Regions from separate parts of the Homo sapiens genome. Here region 2 is linked to region 1. Evidence: fine-mapped expression QTL. A gene starts in region 1. The other region holds a variant in brackets. All regions are shown on one strand. Distances are from middle to middle. Region 1 holds the start of FRMPD4 (FERM and PDZ domain containing 4). Region 2 overlaps FRMPD4 (FERM and PDZ domain containing 4).

Region 1 (11,951 bases):
TAGGACCAGATGGCTCAAGTGTACTGTAAGGAAATACTAGGCATTCTCCTGTTGACTTGATTATCAGTTCACCAGCACACATTGGTTGAGGCTATACAAGTAGTATCACCCATTCTTTTTCCATACATTTTGAACTGGATATTTATGGAAGGCAAACATCACCTTAACAAGCAACTCTCCAGCTCCCCAAAAATATCAGGTCAACTTAGTGACCAAAGAATAAGCATGCATAATTTTTCCAAGTGCAACAAATTAGTAGGACAATTATGTCCACTTCTAATGGTCAGTTTCCAACAGTTCAAGAAGTAATTTGAGATCAGAAGTTTCAATAAAGATAAGGTCTATATTAACTGGTAATGTGCATTAGTGAATTCAAGTATTTATTATAATATGCTCAATTTGACGTGTGTGCCCGCATGTGTGCTGATAATGATAAAGAAGCGAAAACAGGAAAAGGCATTGTTTAACCCAGGGGTCAGTGAATTCAAGTATTTATTATAATATGCTCGATTTGACATGTGTGTGCCCACATGTGTGCTGCTAATGATAAAGAAGAGAAAACAGGAAAAAGGCATTGTTTAACCCAGGGGTCAGTTAACTTTTTCTGTAAAGAGCCAGAGAGTAAATATTTTAGGCTTTGTAGGCCATAAGGTCTCTGTGGCATCTATTCAACTTTGCTGTTGTCAGGCAAATGCAGCCATAGATAATACATAAATGAATGGACATGTGTTCCAATAAAACTTTATTTATGGACACTGAAATTTTAATTTCATATTATTCTTTTTTTGATATTTTTGAACCATTTAAAAATAAAGAAACCATTCTTTGCTCACAGGCTATGCCATAACAGTCAGCAAGCCAGATTTGGCTCATAGGCCACAGTATGCCAACCCCTGTTTTAGCCTATTCATAATTTTCTTTTCCTGCTATGATTAGCTTTCAAGATTAAAGATCATTTGATGGTAACAGTGGTAGATTTCAGGACGGTATGCTTAAACAAAGATTTTAAACGGTCTTGAGTTTTCTTATTGAGCCAAGTGTGAAACCAGTGGTTTCAAGTTCATTCCTTAAAGATACATTTCTAGTTCACCAATAATGTACATTCTCTTACAGCTAAACTTCCACGGTTAACCTCAAATGAAATAACAAAGTACTAAAGTTGAACAGTGTATGTGTATGTAAAGGGGGAGAATGAACAGCTGGAAGGACCATAAGCAGAAAGTGAGACTTTCCAGGTCATGCATTTAAAGTACAAGTAAGTTTCACTGCAGCTGTCAGTCTGTACCAAATTCTGATAGCAAGAAGGTGAAACTCACTTGCCCCAGACAATAAGAGAGAGAGAGAGAGATGCTTGAAATGGTACAAAGCCTGACCTAGACGCCTTCTTCCCAGAACTGCGAGCGACTAGACTTTCACAGCTTCAAACTAGCAACTCTTGGGAAACTAGAGTTAAATATTCCTAAAACAGGAATCTAGTTCTGTTATGAAACTGTTCATCATTTCACCTCCTGACAGTCACAAAAATCAGCAGAACTTAGAAAGGATTCAGAAGATGAGCAAGTAGCATTTTTAATAAAATTCAAATCCAGAGTCTTTGGGGTTTTTTCATTGCTAGCCTCCAGAGCTCACTATTATCAGCAATATTAATACAATTACTCAGTAAAAATAGGGGATATGGGAAAAACCCTGACCTTTTGCATTACTTCTTTAACTTCCCCTTTTCCCTGGGAAATATTTAATTCTGAATAAGATAAAGGTAAAAGACAGAAGTTTAGTAGTATCTAAATGGACTTGACATAAAAATCTAAGGAAACTATACATATGTATTTTGTATTTTTCCTCAAATATAAGATACTTGTAAGAAAATTAGCATTCTAATATTAGATATTAGTCACTGCTATATACCACAAAATAACCCATGCAACTATAAGAAAATGCAAAGTAAAGCATTCCCCAAATTTACCTACTACTATAAGAAATCATCATATCAACAGTGGGGACTCAATCATTATCATCAAGTCTACCGTTTTGCTTAAAGAAAAGAAGCCAAATCAGGGACTTAATCTATGAACATATCACTCAATTTAATAACATCCCTATGAGTTTTGGATCTCAAATCATCTCCCTCTGGCAAAAGGGGCATAATCATATGTTTTTCTACTGGACTGCATTCTTCTATAAACATTTGAAAGAATGCATCTGCTTTACAAATAAAATAGTCAATACAAAGAGCAGTAACAATAAAAATATATGCCTGTTTTTATACTATTACTGGTTTATAAGGCAATCATCTGTAATGCTCTCATCTACAAGGATGGAAAATAATATAGAACTGTTACCAAGGAAACAGTGAAGTAAAACTGCATGTAAACTATCAAGCAGTTTAAGAACCAGAAAATTAGAAGAACGGGAAAAACCATCTTCAGATAGAACCATGACACACTGTGCCACCCACGAAGGATGCAATCAAGGGTCATAACTCTAACTGATGATGTAAAGGGTGCCAACTACTTACCAGCAATTCCAACACTTGGCAGCAATTTTTTTTTAATGGTACTGGGTTATTGAGGGGCACTGTCAATTCTGATTTTTCCCACGATTAAAAGGGTATAGATTCTGGAAACGAATAGTTAAATGTAGACACTCTAAAAAGTCAAAATATGCAGTTTATTTATTCCAGTGTCGAATAATATTCTCTTGGAATTCTCTGTAATTACACTGTCTTTACTCACAGATAGGACACTAAGCAAATATCACTTCCAAGATATGCCTTCTGAATTAACATTTAGAAGCTCAAGTTTGTAGGAACCAAAGGTAAGGCCAGGTACCCAGGGTAACTACATGTGTTTGCCTCTAAACCAAGAGAATTTTAAGCACTGAAGTAACCATGCTGATCAAAGCTAAATCCTTTAGGAAGATTATCCATTCTGAAATCAGGAAAATCCTGCAGTATAAGCACTTTCATACTTCACCTTTGAGAAAAGAACTTGCTTTCTGTAACAGTGTTTAAAACACATACAAGACTTTCTTCCTCCCAAGGCAGAAACAAGCAACTGCAAACATGTGTTTTTACATGCTGATGACCCTCTAAAGGTACTTCTATCTCAGCACGGGGACCATCCTCGGGCTCACACTAAAGAAAAAGAAGAATTCTATGGATGGAAGATTTCTTAATCGGCACATCAGCTCAGAACATTTGCACCTTCTGTCTTTAGAATAAACACTCTACTGGATCACATTAAGGATAGAAAGTGAAACTCACACTCATTTACTAAATTTTAAACTCTCTTTAAAATAAGATACCACTCTCCCCACAGCCTTGCTTGAGTTTTGCAAAAACTCAGATTTGTGAATATCATGTAGGCATCCTAGAATTTAGTAAAAAGAATATGAAACATCTTTTCACTGACACATGACACTGTCCTCTCCAAAGTTCCTAAGTTTAAGGACTAAATCGAGGCTCTAGATGTTTTGTTAAACTGTTTTTAGCATCTGAGGCCACCAAAAAGTATCCTGGTTACTTTGAACTATACTATTGGTTGAACTTCCCTTTCCCTTTAGCAGTATCTCTGTCCATCACACGGAGGGTACCACTTAGCCTCTAAACTTGCACACAGCTGCTTCCCAACCATGGTTCAATATTTGACAGCTGTTTAGAAACTAGCCCTAGGCAGAAGCATGCAGGAAGTTAATAGAATAGTGGTGTGAAGCAATGGCCCTCTATGAGATCAGCTTGAAAGCAAACAATTGGCCACACCACAATCATCCACTGCTTAACACATCAGTCTTCTGATCTGCAGGACAACACCTCTTCCTGAGCTGCTCTAAGACACAGGTATTTACCCATCAACTGCGTATCTCCAGTCTACTTAGAGTAAGCTGCACTGGGCCTTTCTGCCTGGGGAAATCTGCTAGTGGCATGAAGACTGACCCATGTTAGTAGAAAGGGAAGGTGGAGATGGGCAGGCAGAACAAAGACCTGTAGATGTCGGAGAGAATGGCAACATCCAAACAGAACCTTTCTGAAGTGGTCTAATGTAATTTAATAAAGCAAAGTCAACATACGTTTCTACCTCTGACTATTGGAAGCTGCTCATCCCTGCCTGATGCAATCAACACATCTCACTCTGACACTCAGGACTGAAGGAAAACCTGGGATTATTCTGTCCATATTGCAAGTAAGTTTTTAAGCTACATCCTGGAAAAACCCAACTGTCTACCTCCTACGTCCTGGTGGTAGCTGCTATAAAGAGCTCCAGGGGCAGAGAAGGTTGGGCATGGTTTTCTAAGACCACTCCTATTGGGCTCTTCCCAATTAATGCCACATAGCAAGCAGCACAAACCTTACTCTGTGGCTCAAACGAAGACTTTGGAAGCATAAGCAGGGCAGAAGACCTGGAGGAGTGCTCTGGCCAGGCAACACCTAGGCGGCCCAAGCGTGGAAATGTTCCTCTTTTATCAGTACTACCCAAAAATGTCTGAATCGATGATTTAGTTTTAGCTACTGTTTTAACAACATGGCCACTTAGAAGAAAATTTCTAAATCTTTCGAGGCTTAAGAATATAGTTACCCCCCCCCCAAAAAAAAAAAGGCTGAAAGTCTTTCTCTTCTATCTACATGACTTCGCCATCTAGGTTACCGTTGGGAGCACCTGGTCAATCTAGGAGCTGACTTTGTGGAGGTGTGGAGGTGTAATTTAGGAGTTGGGGGAAGGCGGCACTTTTGGTCTTTGCAGCTTGGAAGGCAGGCACCCAAGCTCCAAGCACTTCTGGGTTTCCCTAGCAGTAGCAATTACAACCATCTTCTCTTAGCCCTGAATTATACATGGGACCCCAAACACCGCTGGGGCTTTTCCTTAGGGAAAACAAACTGTCGTGAATGTCGGTGTGTTGGTGAGGGCATGTATGTACCTCTCTGTGTGTGGTCTACACCCGCCGCTACACAAGCCTCAGCAGCCAGTGAGAAATAAGTTGAACGTGGAAGCCCCCGGCCACTTCGTTTGTCTTAAGCCCCGTCGCGCTTTCCAGCTTTTGCCTCTACCCAGCCTCCCGAAAAATAAGGCACCAAGTTGCCCGCGGCAGCGGCCCTGGGTGCAAACGGAACCCGCGCAGCCCCTACCTCGAAAGCTTTGCAATCTTCACAAAGCTGAAGACATCCATGCAGGCAGCTGGGGACCCCCGAGCGCGACAACTCCGTCGCCCCTTCTCACGCCAGCAACAGCAGCCTCCGCAGCCCCATGGCCAAGACCTCAGTGCGCCCGGGGCTCGAGTCGCGGCGACAGCGGGTGGCGGCGGCGGCCGGAGAGAACCTGCACCTGGAGGCGGCGGCTGCTACCCCCCTCCGGCCGCGAGCTGCGTGTGCATCCCCGAGCAGGACCATTGATAGGCACCCGAGGCAGGAAAACTCAATGGAGAGGGAGCCAGGCAGGGCGCAAGAGGCGGGGGCGGGGAGCGCGGCCCGGGTCTCGCGCCCCGCCCCGTGCGCTCTAGCCCCGGGGACTGCCGGGCGTCCAGAGAAAGCGAGGCCTGGGCGAGAGGCGCTGCTCTGGCTTCCCGGCCCTCGGACCCTCGTGCCCCACGCACCGAGGAGCGCAGACGGAGCCGGGAGACGGCAGGCGAGCTGGGCACACGCGCACGCACCCCTCGCAGCACTGCAGCTGCCTCCCTGCCTCCTTCTCCAAGCCGAGTCCCTGCTCCTCTCCCCACCCCCACCCGCCCGGGGGGAGGGGGCACTCTCCTGTCACCCACTGCGTGTGCCTCTAGATCTGAAGGATCTGGTCTAACAGTCTATGGCACACTGGAGAACTGTGAACGCTACCCCTCCCTCCCCAAGCCGAAGGAGAGCCGTGCAACCGCAGGTTGCTCAAAGCCTCGGTTTGCTCCGTAAACAAAACTAGCGTTCGGAAGGAGCAGGGATGATTGAGGTTGGGTCGTTTGTCAAGGGGAAGGGAAGGGAGATGCCAGGCGCAGCGGGCTCGATTCGGGGAGCTCAGAGTTCCCACTGCTTCTCCCGAATCGCTGGGGCGAGACGTGACCACTGGGCTGGCTGGGAAGGTGTGTCTTTGGACAGCAGCACCGCGGGAGTGTCTGCCAAATAAGAACCGGAGGCATTTGCGGGTAGGGGGATGAACACAGCTGCTCCCTCCTCGAGGAGCATAGAGCGGAGGGTCCCAGGAGCCCGTGATGCGGAGGCTAATTCTAACCGGGCTCAGAATCTAAGGAAAGAGAAGGATTAGAATGGGGTCTGCCACGCAGAGCGAGCTGCTTTTGCACACTGAGCCTTGGGTGAAGGGAACAGGGAAGAAAAAAACAAAACAAAACAAAACCTTGCCGGAGAAGCAAAAACACAGAAACATAAACACTCACCTTAGGCAGAGTAAACTCCAAGTTGCAGCCATCTAGAACTCCTCCTAGCCTTCTCTTTTACATAATTACCTTGGATAATCAGCCCTGTTCATTAACTCAGTTCTACCTCCTGGGAGGCTCAGGCTTCATTGGGCCCCTTTTTCTTCTTCCTCTTGAAGTCTCAAGGCCTCTTCTCCACAATCCTTTAAAATTTCCCCCCAGACTGTGAAGGTCAGCTGGCCGCACTAAGTGTGTGCTCTCCCACCGGCAGCGTTCACCTGGCGGCAGGGCCACCGCAAAGAACAGAGAGCACCCCCAGAAATGTTGGAAGATCCAGCCAGTGTTCCAGTCTAGCTCTCCGAGGGGATTAAGAAAGAAATAGGTTTAAAGTTCCCACACTTCTGCTCCTCTCCTGGTCTGTTGTTATATTTAAAGTCTTCAGTATTCAAGCCTAGTACTAAAGCGTTTTTTTTAAGCATTTATTTCAAAAACTGAACATAAAATAAATAGCAATCTGCAAAATCTAAATGACTTAAAACTCAGGCATAAAATTACATGTTTTTGAATACATAGTTATCAGTTTTCCTGCAGCTTCTATTAAACAGGCTAGTTTAATTGCATGAACGCAGTTACTACTCAAGGATCGGAAGGGGCGAGAGGGACCTTGGCTTTTGAACTCTATTGTTTGTAAAATAATTATAGTTTGGGTCTGCACTGTGCTTTATAATTTTTAAAGCTTTTTTTTGCATTGGAGTCTCATCGCAACCTTTTCATATAAGGCAATATATTTAGAAATCTTTTATTTTTATGCCATAATCTATTCTCAACATACCAGACAAAAAGATGTTTTGTGTGTGTGTATGTGTGTGTGTGTGTGTGTGTGTGTGTGTGTGTGTTTTAACGTAGATCACATAAGGCTACTTGTCTGATCTAAAATATGTAAAAGCTCCCCATTGTCCGTCAAGCTAAAGTTGCGCTCCTGCAAGGGCCAACAGGACCCTAGATCCCGTATCCTTTGATCTTTCTTACCTCAACTATTACTGCCCACTTCCCTCTCCCGTTTTTCTCTGTCCCTCCTCATCCCCTACCCCGAGCCCCTCCTCTCTCACACACATACACTCACTGGGCTCCAGCAATTCTGGACTTCTTGCTATCCTTCAAACTCTACAGGTAATCTTCCCACCTTAGGCTCTTTGCAATGGTTGTTCCCTCAGCCTGGAATGCTCTTTCCTGGGATATCTGCATGGCCGGCTTCTCCACCCTGTCAAATGTATGCACCAATACCACTTCCAAAATGCCCCCTCTAGAAAGCCAATTTAAAATTGCAAAAGGTTCTCACACCCTGGACTCCGAGTCCCTATTAACTGTTTTATTCTTTTTTCTTGTTTCCATAGCATTTATCACCCACTAGCACACTATATAATTTATTTTTATCTTTAGGATTTCTTTTTTTTTTTTTTGGTCTGAATCTCCCACTGGAGCTCCACAAGGGCTGGGATCTTTGTTTTGTTTTGCTTTTGTTTTTCACTGATGGATCTCAAATGCCTAGACCACTTCCCCAGATGTAGAAAGAACTTAAGAAATATTTGTTGAACGAACAAATCATATGCCCATTGGATTCACAGCCAAACCAAAGCTGGCCAAGCATCCCCAGTGAGTACTGATCTGTGTATGACTTCGTGGCTTACATCTGTCTCTTTCCCCACCCATCCACTTCCCCAGCATCCTTCAACCTCCTTTGGACTGACTGTTAATGATGGCAACAAAGGCCTTCTTACATTCTCCAGTTATTTTCCCCCTTCACCTTTTCTACCTTTCCCCCAAAAGAGTGGCCACCGACACGTTCCCTCATCTCTGAGTCAACATCTGGCAGCACAAGACCAGCTCGTGATTGGGAAAAGGGGATAAAACAGTGCCTTTGGAGAATGTGTTTTGAAAAAGTGCTTCCTTCTGAGAAGAGAACAGTTGGGATGCTCTTTTTAAAAGGATTACCCTATTTATCAATAATTATTCCAGATACCAAATATCTAATTATTCAACAGTGAAAGTGACAGGAAATAGACATTGTGTTTACTTCTAGAGAGACAGCCTCCCTTGGAGACATCTGGTCTACCTGGAACAGCTTGCTGTTGGCCTTCTCCCTGTGCCAATTTGTGCGCTACGGTTATGAATGATGCAGATGCCATCTCTCCACAGCATAATAGCTACCAAGGGAAATGACTGACTTCTACAGGTCTTTACACACCTCTCATATAGTAATTATCTAGTATGTTTTCTAATGGATTGATATTGTTTTCTAAAGCAAAGAGATTCCACCCCTCCTCCTTTGTTTCTCATTAATACAACAATGGAAAAAGCTGCTCCCTTGAAACATGCTAACACAGAGTGTTTATATCTTTAAGCCATCTTGGCAGAAGGGCAGAGATTGGAGTAGTTGGTCTCTCAGCTCTGTCCCCTCTCTGTGCCAGGTGTGTGCTGCAGAGGTTAGGATAGGTTTGTCTAGCATGAACTAGATCTGCCTAAAACAAATAAAAGCCAAAAAAGTGGGATCCTGAGTACATATGTGGTTTTCTGAAGTTTTCTTATTAACCTGGATGATCTCTAAGGCCCCTTCTGGATCTTGTAGGGATTTACTAGTTGGAAACTGTATTATCCAACCTTGAGAATCTACTTAATTTGCTTTACTTAGGTTCAAGTGACATTTGGTCATTTCTGAAAACCAGACACACTTTCAAACACTGTTGAAAGTACTCATGAATAAAAGACTCAGGGTCACCAGATCCAGAGCAAGTCCTATAACTTCTCTGAGACTCAGTTTCCTCAGCTGTAAAATGGAAATAATACATCTTTACCTTACACAAAATGAGCACTTGAAGTTGGCACCAGTTTACAGTTGGCTACATATGAGTTGAGGCACATGAATATTAGCTCTAGAAGGATTTCCACAGCTGTCTGCAGCCTTGGCAGTACTGGTAGGAAAAGTTTCAGCCTGTAAGATGACTATTTAGGAGGCCCAACATTCGCTTGGATTAATCAGAGGTAGGCACTTTTGCCTAAAAATCAAACACTTTGTTGCCTGGGCAGTTACTAAAGCCCTAGGCTGTAGCATTTTTTATGCCCCGGGGGATTCTCAGGGGGAAGTGTGAGGAGCTTCATCATTCTTAAGGCCTTATCTAAAGCTGGTGTTAGGAATCTGCTATTGGGCCAGATGTTCCATATAGGTTGGCAGCTGAGGGTTCTTTCGCTGCAAGTTACAATAGAGAGAGCCCCAAGCATTTCTCAGCTGGACTGAAGCATCTCGACCATCTGGTCTCAGTCCTGAAAACAGAAGTAAATAAATAACAGCAAGGTATCCATTCAATCAGCAAATATTTATGGAGTGTCTCCCATGTACCAGGCACCACTGTAGGCACTGGGAAATAGACTAGGCAACAAGGCAAGTTTCTGTTCTCATAGAACTTATGAAGAGGAGGTAGATGATAAACAACAAAATCAGAAATTGTAGTGAACAAGAAAATAGCAGATAGCAATGTGCAGAGAATTAAAATTCTTCTGATGGAAAGGGAGTGGCTAGGTGGCTATTTGTTATTCAGTGGTTCAGGAAGACTTCTATAAGGAGGTGACATTTAAACTGAGATATGAAGAACAAGAAGGAGGCTGCCACACAAAATTCATATGGAAGAGCATTCCATGCAGACGGAACGGCAAGGATAAAACAAGGATGGAGTCCTTGAGGCAGGAACGATGATTGTATGTTTGAAGAATCCGAAGGCAGCCACTGTGACTGAAGAGTAACGCGTTAAATGAAGTGAGAGTGAGCGAATTTGCAGGGGCAAGAAGGGTGAGATCACATGGGGCACAGTAGGCCAGTGTCAGCTGTCTGGCTGGTATGAGACGGGAAGCCATGTGAGGATTTTTAGCATGGAAGTGGCCAAATCTGACTTATGTTTTGAATGACCACTCTTGAGGGAAGTGAGTGTGAGGGCAGGGAAACTACTGATTTAGGAGCCTGTTGCAAGAATCCAGGCAAGAGCTGGCAGCAGCTCAGAGAGGACATGACAAGGAGGTGGTGAAAAGTAGCCAGGCTCAGGATATGTTTTGAATAGGAACAGTTGATGGGTTAGATGTAGGAGGTGGGGAAAGAGAGGAATAAGGGAAAACTCATTTATTTGTATTATTTACGAAATACCCTAGTTCGGTCAGGCGTGGTGGCTCACGCCTGTAATCCCAACAGTTTGGGAGGCTGAGGTGGGAGGATCACTTGAGCCCAGGAGGTTGAGGCTGCATTGAGCTCTGATCATGCTACTGCACTCCAGCCTGGGGAACAGAGTGAGACCGTATATGAAAAAAATAAAGAAAAGAAATGCCCTGGTTCCCTTATCTAGATATAGAACATACAAAAACCAGAAGGGTTTCGCTGGGTGCAGTAGCTCAGGCCTGAAATCCCAACACTTTGGAAGGCTGAAGTAGGAAAATTGCTTGTGGCCAGGAGTTCGAGACCAGCCTGGGTAACATAGTGAGACCCCATCTCTAAAAAATAAAATAAAATAAAATAAAATAAAATAAAATAAAATAAATTTTTAGAAACCAGAAGGGTTTTACCTCCCACTGGCTAAAGTACTCTGCCTTTCCTCCTGTTCCTTTTAATGAACTCCACTGCTCTGAAAGCTGGCCCTCCTGTGATTCTCCTCTCTCTTGCCTGCTCAAGGCCCTTAATCTAGCACTTACTGTCTCTTTTTCCTATATCAGTATTTTTTTTAATCAAACTGTTGGACCATTCCCATGTGCATTCAAACATGATGCTCTTTATCCAACCTTTAAAATATTTCTTAATTCCCACCACATCTCCTGTCAGCTAAATCCCATTTTTCTGCTTGCCTTTATAGCATATCTTCTCCCAAAAGTTCTCCATTTGCTATCTCCTACTGTATCTTGAATCTATTCCATCCATGTTTTCTTTTTACCCTTACAATCACCCTACATTAAAACTGTTCTTGTCATTGTAACTAGGGACTCCACGTAGCTGGATCCAACAGCCATTGCTCAGTCCTTATTGACACAGCTGACCATTCCCTCTTCCTTGAAACATTTTCTTCACATGTCTTAGGTGACAACACACTCTCCTGGTTTTCTTCTTTCCTTGCTGTTTGCGTCTTCTCAATGTCTTTTTTATTACTCATCTGTCACTGTATCTCATCTTGCCAACCTTGAATCGTTGAGATGGCCCAGGGTTGAGCTAGAATTTCTTCTCTTTGAGTATCTATGCTTACTTCCTAAGTGACAACATTGAGTTTTATGATGCTTAATGTTATCTATATGCTGACAAATCCCACATTTCTATCCCTGGCCTAGATCCCTCAACTCCAGACCACCCACTCAACATCTCCATCTAGTGACTAACAGGCACCTTGAAGTTAACATAGCCTAAAACTAATTCCCATAGAGAAGACTCCTGCCTACAGTCTTTTCCATCTCTGGTAATGCCAATTTCATCCTTTTAGTTGCTTAGCTCCAAAATCCAGGGGCCACTTTTAACTTTTTTTTTTTCCCTCCTAAACCTCACCTGAAACCGATCATCAAATCATTCAGATCTACCTCCAAAATAG
Region 2 (11,951 bases), 280 kb before region 1:
GGTGTCCTTGGAGCAAATAGGTTCAGTGAACTGATATGGGCAGAAGCCAGATTTGACTGGGTTGGGGAGTTTTAGACCAGCACTTCTCAACCATTTCACCCTCAGGACTCCTTTCCACTCTGAAACATTTTTGAGGACCCCCGAAGAGTTTTTGTGCATGTTGCTTACATCTACCGATATCTAATATACTAGAAAGTAAAACTGATAAATTATTGAAATATTTTTTATGTATTTAAAAACAACAATTCTATTTCATAAGTCATATCTTTTTATAAAACATAACCATATTTTCCAAAACAAAAACATTTGGTGAGAAGAACAGCATCTTTTTACAATTTTGCAGATAGATCTCTTTAATACATTGCTCGACAGATGACAGTGGGTTTTTTCTATCGGCTTCTGGATTCAATCTGTTGCAGTACTATAGGAGACAGGATGCTTTGTCCGAGACAGGAAAAACAACTTATCTTCCACCCTCACAAGGGGGAGGAGGTGATGTAGTATGTGGATATGAGTAAATCAATAGGTTTGGGGGCAGGAGGTTGAGGGACTTTTCATCCAGTAGATTCTACTTTCCCTGCAAGATAGTATCATGATACAGGAGGAGGGAGGGGTCAGCAATTTTAAAAGCATAGGGAATATTAGAGCATAAATAATCAAGTCATTCTTTCTTATTAAGAAATCCAATGAATAAAGTCTCCTTGGATAAACATAACCCATGACATGAAATACCAAGAAAGGTATCTGGGGTGTTAGAAAATTGTGAGGCCTTCTGGGAAACTGAAATTCATGAAGAATTATTTAAGAAGAAGAAACAAAAATAAATGTAACATCTTTGGCCCTTCTGGAGAAAAGCTGAAGAAATGGTGGCTGTTTTCCGCTATTTATAAGCTAGCAACAAGGGAATTATCATAGGATGCAGCAAGAAAGTTCAGTTACATGATTATGTCTGGGTTCTGGGTTCAGCAGCAGTTTTCTTCTATGCTTATCTCAACCTTGTCACATAGAAACAAATTTTATTTACACTTAGAAATACTGATGGATGTGGCCAGGTGCGGTGACTCACGACTGTAATCCCAGTACTTTGGGAGGCTGAGGCGGACGGATCACGAGGTCGGGAGTTCGAGACCAGCCTGACCAACATGGTGAAACCCCATCTCTACTAAAAATACAAAAATTAGCCAGGCATTGGTGGCACGCGCCTGTAATCCCAGCTACTCAGGAGGCTGAGGCAGGAGAACTGCTTGAACCCAGGAGGTGGAGGTTGCAGTGAGCCAAGATTGCACCACTGCACTCCAGCCTGGGCAACAGAGCGAGACTCTATCTCAAAAAAAGAAAAAAAAAAAAAAAAAAGAAAGAAACACTGATGGATGCTCAAATCCCTGAGTCATCGGCTGGGCCTAGAATATAGCTCAGTGTCACCCAATTTCTGCTCTTTCATGCACTAGCCAGTCCACAAGCTGTCTCTATGGTGATGGCAAGGGAATTATAGTCAATGTAAGTGGACAGCCATACAGCCATACTGAGGGGCTGTAAAATCATCCTCTCAAACTTTTTTGAAGTGTTTCTGAATTTTAGAACACGTTATTCCAGCAAGGGTTCTGAACCTTTTCGGTGTCACGAGCCCCATGAGTCTGGTGAAGCCTGTAGACCCCTTCTCAGAACAATGTTTTTGTTGTTGTTGTTGTTTGTTTTTTTTTTTTTTTTTTTGAGACAGAGTCTTGCTCTGTCGCCCAGGCTGGAGTGCAGTGGCACGAACTTGGCTCACTGCAAGCTCTGCCTCCTGGGTTCATGCCATTCTCCTGCCTCAGCCTCCTGAGTAGCTGGGACTACAGGCGCCCACCACCACGCCCGGCTAAGTAGAGACGGGGTTTCACCGTGTTAGCCAGGATGGTCTCGATCTCCTGACCTCGTGATCCGCCCGCCTCGGCCTCCCAAAGTGCTGGGATTACAGGCTTGAGCCACCGTGCCTGGCCAGAACAATGTTTTTAAATGAATAAAATGAATAAAAGCACATAGAATTACAAAGGAAATGAATTACACTGATAATAGATCATCAAGATAATAAAAAAAACTGATAATAAAGTTATCAAATTTTTAAACTAATTTTTTTTTTTTTTTTTTGAGATGAAGTCTTGCTCTTGTCCCCCAGGTTGGAGTATGATGGCGCAATCTTGGCTCACTGCAACCTCCACCTCCTGGGTTCAAGTGATTCTCCTGCCTTGGCCCCCCAAGTAGCTGGGATTACAGGTGCCTGCCACCATACCCGGCTAATTTTTGTACTTTTAGTAGAGATGGGGTTTCACCATGTTGGCCAGGCTGGTCTAGAACTCCTGACCGCAGGTGATCCACTCCCCTCAGCCTCCCAAAGTGCTGGGATTACAGGCGTGAGCTACCGCACCGGGCCAAAACTAAATTTATTATATAGAAATATGTGTGCTTCCTTGGTTAATATATTAAATAGAAATATCTAGCAACATTTTGAAGTGATACTAGTGTAACTGTGTCCAGTATGGTGGTATCTGATGGCAATGCAAAAAGTAGCTTATAGGCTGATGGGATGGCAGATGTATAAAGAGATAAATGAATCGACTGAAGAAATATTAGAGTATGCACTCATGCTATAGAACACATAAGAGTCAGACACGCCCTCCCGGAAGAGGTCTGAGCCGAGCCTTTAAATCTCAAAGGTATTATCCTTATCTATAAATTAAATTGAATTTTTTCAATTAAGTAGGAATAGTCTCTGGATGACTAAGGAAAGAGATTAAGCAAAGATGAGAGAATACCTTCTAAAATTTTTTTTCTGGTGTTCCCAAAATAAAGGATTTTAAAGAAAGACAGACAAAATGTATGGTGTGACTTCCTTTGTAAAGTGGCTAAAGGAAAGGTACAACCAGACAAAGACACAGAGGAAGCATTTTTTGATTTTTAACATGCTAGATACCTTCAAAAATGTTTTTCCTTGCCCACAAGGGAAACAAATCAGCTCTCATCATATGTCCCATCTCTAAAGAGGCAAAAGGCTAAATGAAGGACAGTCATAAGACACAAGTTGAAATATCCTTCGACCACACGACTCCTGTTTTTGAAAATCACAACTTGGAATTGAGTCTTATGAAAATTTATCTCAGAGAAAATGCCACAACTATTAAGAGGAAAAGATCTTACATAAATCGAAAAAGAACGGATTATTAATGCCACAAATTAGAGAGTAATAGAACTGTGTTTAAGAAGTAGCTCCCTGCCTTCAAAGGCTACACCATACAAGTTGTTAATTAACAAAGTAACAATGGATTCCCACAACTGCTGTGGAAGTAGAAACTGATGGCCAGGAAGCCCAGGTGAGGGCATGCTCATTAGGAAATCTGCCATGCCCCTCTAAGAACAAACTTTCCTTTAAGGAATTTAAGGAGGAGAGAAAGCTGCTTTGTGGTCCTTGCTCAATCACTATTTATATCCAAAAAAAGAAAGAAAGAAAAAAGAAGGAAGGAGAAAGGGAAGAAAGGAGGAGGAAGGGCGGAAGAGGTAGAAAGGGAGGAGAAAAAGAAACATAAAATAGAGAAAGAGAAGGAAGGAAAGAGGGAGGGAGGGAAGGAAAGGAAACATTCAGAGCAAAATAGATGCTCACTAAATGTTAGCATTTCCTTAACAGCCTGCTTTTGGCATTGCATCATTTTGCAGGAGACGGACTAGTTCTTTCACTTTAAAATTATCTTATGTGCTGCCCAAAGGTCTCATATTGTCATGAAGAATTCTTGATAATTAGCAAATTTTCTGAAAGTTCAGCATCAGCTGATAATCGCAAATAATACAAATATACCATGGCCTTGAAATAATCAGAATCACCGTAAACAGCAGTGTTAGAAACATATTTCAAAGTGAAAGAATACACTATTCTCAGGAGATAATCACCAACATTCTTCCAAATCCTGATCAATGGAGGCAGCATTTTGCTACATGAGCAATAAACCAGGAAGACTCTGGATATATCATGTATAATGCTGGGCATTATAATCAAACACAACACAGGAAATAATCCCAAGTCTTTAATAATATTAATAATCATATTTAAATAGCAATTGGGTGTTAGTCATACAATTTTAGTATTGGTGAGAGCCTTGTGAATCAATCTCATCCCCCCTATTATTGTTGTCAAAACTAAAACAGTAAAGGAGATAGAAAAACCTAAGGGGGTGTTGGAAGATGAATTCTGGTGCAAAATCCTTTAATCATATTTTTTCAAATATATCAATCAGATTGCTTTCCTCACACTAAGAACTAAAGAAATGAGATTTTTTTTCCAACTGGGGAGGAGAGGATGGATGGAGGAGGTAAGGGTTGCAGGGCTCAGGACTATCTTTTTGAAAACAACATATATTGCCCAGCAATACTGCTTTTCTGATGCAACTTTGGCCACCTCCAGAGATGCTCAGTAGGGCTGTACTTACAACGAAGACCCTCTTAGTCTCAGGATTTATGTGCCTCCACGATGATTCCAAAGGGAGACAAATCAACTAAGAATCAATAATGTTAAATTAATCTTGGGTAAGCCAAGAGTTACATATGTCATCTAGAATGGCTTACATGGAACACCAGGACCCAAATGCAATTCCCTCAACACCCTCCTTATCTTGGTAGTGCTCACCACCTAGATAAAATGTCAGCAGCAGCCTGAACTCTAGACAATTTCCTTCATGGTGTTATCTAAAGGACCACCAAAAAGATGATCAGCTCCCATCCTTCCACAAAAGAAAAACTCTACCACTTAGTATTGAAGCTTTCAATGCAGTGTAGTGATCACGTGTAAAAGTAGAACTATGGAGTCAGACAGAATTGTGTTTGAAAAAGTCTCTCTTGTAACCAACTTGGGAAAATGACTTAATCTCTCTCTGTAGTTGGGGGAAAGATGTAGTGATATGTAAAGCACCACCATAAGGTTCAGAACATAATGAGTTCTCAATAAATGTCAGGTCCTCTCTCTTCTACTGAAGTTGCTCTTTCATTATTTTTGGGCTCCCTCTTCTCTAAAATCCCAACCCATGATGAAGGCTTTCAAGGCCTGTATATACTAATGGCTCTCCGAAACCTAAGATAAGCAGAACCTTGGGTTCCAGAATTCCTTAGTCCTGTCCGTAATAGAAGAATATAAAAATACGTCTCAAGCATCTGCATACTGACACAAAGCATTTTCAGGATGATATCATTGTTGAATTGAGACTTAATTAGTTTTGTGTGAACTTTGGGATCAAATAACATAACAAAATAAATTAACTGAGGCTAAGAAACAACTTTTTCACTTCATAAAAAGCTTTTTAAGTCACTCCAATGAGTCTTTGATTCAAATATAATGAAATTTCATGTTGAATCAATGATAGACCTTTTGAACTGTAATCTGCCAGAAAGTAGACAACTCAAAAATTGAAAATGGGCAGATCAAAGTTACACTGATAGGAATCTGTTAATGAACCATAGTGTGTTGTGTGGATAGGATTAGTGAGGACCTATCTGATTTACTGCATGAGGATATTAATGTGAAAGGTAGAAGCAATGCATATTAAATGATCACTAAGTGCTTCTGAAAGAATGCTTTGTAGCAATAACATTTAAATTCCTTTCATTTAGCCAAGATATATAAAACTGTGGAAATCCCTATTTATAGTCACACAGACCAACACTGGTTTAACAGGGAAGGCCACCATCTCATAACAGTAAATCCATAGCCCTATGGGCTTTAATTGAAAAAAATTATCACCTAGACACTAAATGAATTTGAAAGAAATAGAAGACTGAAATATTGCCTTTTAGATTGCTGACAATTCTGGAGGGTTGTTGGCTGGAAGGGCTGAACATCCCCAAATTGGCACCAGATTTTAAAACAACCTTCCAAGTGGTTTAATTGGTAGGCACACCAGGTCCTCAAACACAAGAATTTGCACATTTAAAGGCTGCCCCACAATGTTCCAGGAACCTAGTCATGAATGCAATAGTCAGTATAACACGTTCTCTTTGTACATTGGACCTGACATTCTTGTTTTAGAAAAGTAACTGAATCTATAGACCACTGGGCCAGCTGTTCTCCATCAGAGTGCACTCCTTCACTTAGCTCCTGTAGCATTTACTTGGTGTAGCTAGAATGCAGGCTCTCAAACCAGACTCACAACGTGGGTTTGAACACTTCTGCCTCTTCCTTTGCCTTTGCATGTTTCAATTTCCTTGTCTGCAAAAATAAATGTAATGATCATATCTAACTCACGGGGTTGATGTTAATATTTGTCTTAGTTTGGATTTCCCTAGAAGGAGACCCCAATACAAAGATTCCTGTGCAAGGGTAAGGAAACTATGCTGGGAAGAGAAAACAAACAGTCAATAAAGAATGGATTATCCAGCCAGCTACCATACTGGGTGACTGGAGCTTAATCCTGCCAGGAAATTCTGGGAATAGTATAAAACTCACATGTCTGAAATATCCCATCTGAGGAGCAAAGGAACTGGGATATCTATATACCGACTCATGTCAATCATTTTTAAAGTGCTCCCAGACAAAAGCATACCGGCTTTAAACAGTTTCAGAAAAATCCCTCCGAGATGCAGAGACTGGCTGCTGGAAGTCATCTAGCATACAATGATGTGGTGTAGCCCTAGAAATGTGGCCAGGGCTGCACAAATTAATGTCCATAAAGTGCATGGCACATACAGTGCCATAAATGTGTGTTTTTTTTTTTTACTATGACTATCAGTATTATTATTTTTACTACCCATGGAGGCATTGGCCAATGCTATTAGATATTTATGTCTATGTCCTGCTACCAGGACCCTTGTTGATGTTCCCGATACAAAAGCTGTTCTATAACATTTGATGCTCATACTCAAGATGATTCAGATTCAACCAGAAAGGCTCAGACTGAGAAATCAGCAGTTATTTGCTTTTGTACACTATGTGCCTATGAGATGAAGTGCAAACCACCACCAACCACAAACACAAATTCCTCTCCCAGGAACCACTGAGTCTTTACTCTCAGAAAAATCCATGCCTCTACCTTTGCTGCCATTATCAGGCATGGCCCTAAGAATCTCACAACAGGCTGTGGCTGAGTTTATTTAATCTGCATGCTATAGAGGTGTTTTATCCAGAAGTGATTATCTTAGGAAGTCAGTTAAGAAGTACTAGACATCACTCCTAAAAGTATCCTGATGCTTGCCAGAATATGGATTAAGAGTTTCCCAAAGGAGATAAGCAAACTCTAAAAATGTCCTCTTCTCAAGCTGCTGCTTTTATGAAATTCCTCATTGGCTACCAAGGGGGAACCTCAGATACTGATCATCTGGAAGCAGCAATCACTTATTGAGGCCACAGAAGCAAGATGACGTCAAATCCATGTATGGAGCATTTGTTTTGTGTAAGATAATTCAGACAATGGGCAATGGGGTAGGTGGTTGTGTGGGAGAAGTAACTAAGGTTTAGAAGACAGATCTGCTCAAGGAATCTGTAGACTCA[C/T]TAGGGAAAAGTGAATTAGTCACATTAAATACCAATTATTATAGATTTGTGCTTACTTTTGAATCACACATAATGGTAAGAGCAAAATGCTAAAATTTGTCACAAACCATTATGCATTGAATCATCACATGATTAGGCTGAAGTGGCCTGTGAATCAGGCTGCACAGGAATTGAGGCTTTCAAAAGGATATGATGAAGAGACTCCTAGTTGATTACGCAGCAGACATTCTCTCCTTCTTCCAGGTTTTTTCCTAGGGGACAAACTTGCCCAAGTAAAAGACTGTAGTTACCAGGCAGCCTCCCTTCAAGTCAGTGGTATCCAGTGAGTTGTAGACCCTTGGCCTTTTTGCCCTTTTTGACTTCCTTCATTTCTGCCTAGATATGATGTCAGGAGCTTACTAGGTCATCTTGGACCATGCAGTGACACTGACGATGGAAGCCATGTGCTAAGGATGCAATAACAGAGGGCAGAAATAGCTCAGGTCTCGGATGGACTATGGAGCCACCATATTGCATCCTGAGTACCTACCTCTGCATTCGTCTTTTACAAGATGCACATTTCCCACGCTTTAGCATCTTTAACAACAGGATGTCTTATAATCAATGGTGTTTTAAATTGCTCTGCACAAAGCAACAGTTTGTCCTGCACAAGTGTGAACAATGTACTCATTGCTATTTATATGGTCCTCACCTCAACTGAATTACGTCTAGTGCTGATACTACAAATGCTTAGCTTAAATCCCATTTAAATTGTCTTCCAAAAGATTACATCATGATTCAATATTGAAATGGAAAGTTACTGGTACACAGAAAAGCGTGGAAACAGAGCAGTGGGGTGTGAATTGCATATCAGCAAAGCAAATATTCATTGCTGAAGAAGTGAACACATTTTCATATCTGCTAGCAAAGGGACAAATGCTTTCGGGACCTAAGACAGGAAAATAGTAGCCATGTGCTACTAAGATACTTACAAAAGCGTGGCTTATCTCAGGCTAAGCAAGAAAAGTCCCAGAGTCAAAACTTGAAGAGTGGGTGTTGGGAGTTTGGAAGAAAATCTCAGAGACAATAGTGGGAACTCCTAGAGCTCCTAAGAATGCTGCATCACCAATGTTTTTGATGGCACAGTTGTTTGAACAGTTGTATGAACAACTGCTATGTGAACAAAAGTGGACATCAGTGATTCTGAGTCAAAAAGGCACTCAGAAGGGGTTCTGAATGCGATGAAGTTTTAGGAATACCTTAACAATTCTATTTTGCTTATATATCCGTTTTTACATATGGTCACGAGTAATACATGATTTTTACATATCTCTAAGTCTAAAAGAACTCTAAGTCTAGAAGAGACAATGAGGACAGAGAGGACAATTCAAAAACCATTTCTTTAAGTCCGTGATAAGATGAAGAGGGTCTGATAAAGGTAATAAGGAAGGAACGGCAACTACTTATACTTTAATATTTAAGTGGTACTTGGTGGAAGTAACCGCGTCAGCAAAATTAGAAGCTAAATAGCCTTAGGAAGAGTTGGGGGTTAAGAAAAGAGATTTTTCTTTCAGCAGGGTTAAAAGTAAGAGCATTTTAGAGGACTGTGGGCAGGATCAATTTTGACAGACCTGAAATTGGCATTTTAGCTGCTACTCACAGCTAGGAGCTCTTTCTTTCATTACGCTTTTATGACTCCATAATAAAAGGAGCAAAAGCAGAACTGCAAGTTACTGGTGCAAAGTGGTTATCTCTCAGAAACCAAGTTTGCAGCACACCATGGAGCATGAGGTGGCAGTTGGAAAAAAAACAGATTAGAAATACACAGAGCAACACAGACGGATCTTAACATCCCCAGGCTCAGAAAAAACACACAATGAAACATATAGCACAAAAAGATTTATGCAAATTGAAATGAATGTGTGTAAAACAATAATACACCCTTGCAAAAACGAATGCACACAGAAATATTCACACTAAACTCAGTAGAAAAATTACCTGGGCGTGTAAATGGGAGTGGCATAGGGGGATAAAGGGGAATGAATGAGTTACTCAGCCACATCAGGAAGTCTTCAATAATCAGTGATGATAAAGTGTCAGAAACTGATAAAACAATTAATCTGACTGATGCTCTCCCCACTCACAAAAAAGGTTGCAGTTTAAATTGGAAGTTCAAATCAGCACTGACATAAAGCTTCACTAAGATACTTTAAAACCCTGTTTTCCTAAAATTCAGGAAAGAAAAAAGGGGTGATATTCACATATTGTAGGACTATTGAATACTTGAGAAAAAAGGGAAGAAAAATGTTTAATGAGCACCTTTTAGAATTAATAAAATTTAGAATAAAAACCAGAATTCAAAGGTGATATTACTTGGTACCTTTTTGCCCCTACCCCCACGAACAGTAACGGAAATGTCATTATACCAAATGATTTTTGCTAATGATGGTTTTCATTTTATGGACTAATTCCTTCAGTAAAACTGAAAAACATAAAACTCATTAGTTTTAACTGGATTTATTTTGAAATCATTTCTATTTGACCATTAAACTATTCTTCTGCATTTCATTAACAAGAATGTTCTCAAATTTCATTTCTTCTGCTCATCTATTTTTAGCAAGTTAAATTCTGAAGTAATCTCATAGGGGTAAATTTCAGAAATGTGTCCTTAGGTTCTTACATCTTTGCTTTATTCTCTTCTAATTTCAACTCCAGAATCTCCCCAAAGTTCTATTGTCTTCAATTAAAGGAACACAGTCAAATGTGCCTCCTTTCCATCAAACTTGATCTCTAAAGTAAGAGTGCGGGGCACACAGATAAATAGATTAGCAGCTGGAGAAAGCACAACCCTTTTAGCTAGAATAAATGAAAACTGCAGCACCATAACAAATGCTCATATACTTTACTATATGGTGTTCAGCAGCATCTTCGGCATCTAGTCACTAGATGCCAGTAGTGACCTGCCCCCAACAAGGTCTCCACAAAGATGGTAAAATCACCCGATTGAGAACCGCTGCTATATTTTTGAAAAAGGTGCTGTATTGAAATCCACCAGAGAGCAATGGCTTGAGCATCCATTACATGCCTTCTGTTGTGGGAAGTACTTTTTTATGTTACCTCATTACAAGCTGTCTTAACAAAAACAACAACCAGTTATCAATGGCTGAGTGCACTGCCTCTATCCCCTTCTTCTAGTAAGACCTCTCAATTTTTTGCCTTGGATACAAACTCTTCCCTGTTAGTCATGTGAAGGTGAGGTTTGCCAGTCAGGGTGTTCCACTCTCTACTAGCCAAGGGGGGGATATTCTCTCTCTAATGGAAGAAAAGAAAGATAGAAAAAGGCTGATGTCATTATCCTCCTGAAGAATCCTTGCAAAGCCTTCCTGAGTTGCTGAACAAGGTCAGCCCTTGCAAACTGCCCTTGTTCTTGTCCTTGCTGATACATCTGTTCCTTGAATTGTTTGAGTGCCTGCATATCTTTCTAATAATTTCCTATTTTGGCCAAATTAGCCAGTTTGGGTTTTTGTTCTTTGCAATCAAAAGACCCCAAATGATTGGGCACCATTTACTGAGCTTCAGTATGGGCTGGGTGCTGTGCTGATGGCGTGTTGCACATTTCCTTACTCATACTCAGTAGATACTGATCAAGTGCCCAGTATGTGGCAGCCCCTCCTCTTGTTCTGAGAAGCAAACAAAAACAAATGCCTAGCTAGGCCTTGCCCCCAGGAATTTTGATTCACTGGGGCTGAGGTGAAGCCAGGTATTGTTTTATTTGTCAACAAAGTGCAATTGAAAACTTAATATGTACAAAGCAGTGTCTTTTGGCATTTAATCTGAAATCAGAAATGAAAACTAAGAGTAATTATATTTTTAATTAAAAGAAAACTGAGAATTAGATGTGATATTGTAAAGGCTAAAGCAGCTCCATCTTGGATGGAACCAAAGCAAGTAAAAATTGCTTCTTAACAGAAAACACATCTAGTATGTAAGTCCTACCCTTAGGTCAAACAACCTTGATGTTATTATACTTCGATGGTCCTACATATCCCTTCCGAATCACCCTTTCCCTATGGTATATAAGCCCTGGGTCTGGAGATAATGGCATAGGGATCCACCATCTTGTCTAGCCACCACTCGAGACACAGACATGGCTTCCGTTTGTGAGTGCCTATTAAATGTCTCTTTCTAAGAAACTGGATATGTTAGCCTCTTTCTTTTGTCTCTCTGCTACCTCAAACTTTGGGGGTAGGTTTGCATAGACCTGCCTACCAACGAAGATATACTATTATCATTTTTTAAAAGCTTTGCTGTCGACAACAATATATAGTCAGGCCCGAATCACAATATTCTAGATTAAGGATTGGCAAACTATGGTCTGTGCACACAAAATCTGTCCTGCTGCTCATATTTACAAAAAAAGTTTTATTGGAATGCAGCCACACTCACTCATGTACATATTGTCTATAGCTACTTT

Evidence for each region.
Region 2: its variant is fine-mapped to the expression of FRMPD4 in fibroblasts (GTEx, PIP 0.97).

What each region holds. Positions count from the first base shown.
Region 1 is chrX:12,132,181-12,144,131 of GRCh38, reverse strand. It overlaps FRMPD4 (FERM and PDZ domain containing 4), which reads right to left and starts at 5,659. Exons shown (of 17, transcript NM_001368397.1): 1 at 5,120-5,659. The coding sequence starts at 5,160.
Region 2 is chrX:12,407,753-12,419,703 of GRCh38, reverse strand. The region is part of intron 1 of FRMPD4 (FERM and PDZ domain containing 4); the gene reads right to left. Among named protein-coding and RNA genes, the nearest start is that of FRMPD4-AS1, 38 kb to the right of the region's middle. The variant C/T (reference allele first, on the strand shown) is at 7,499.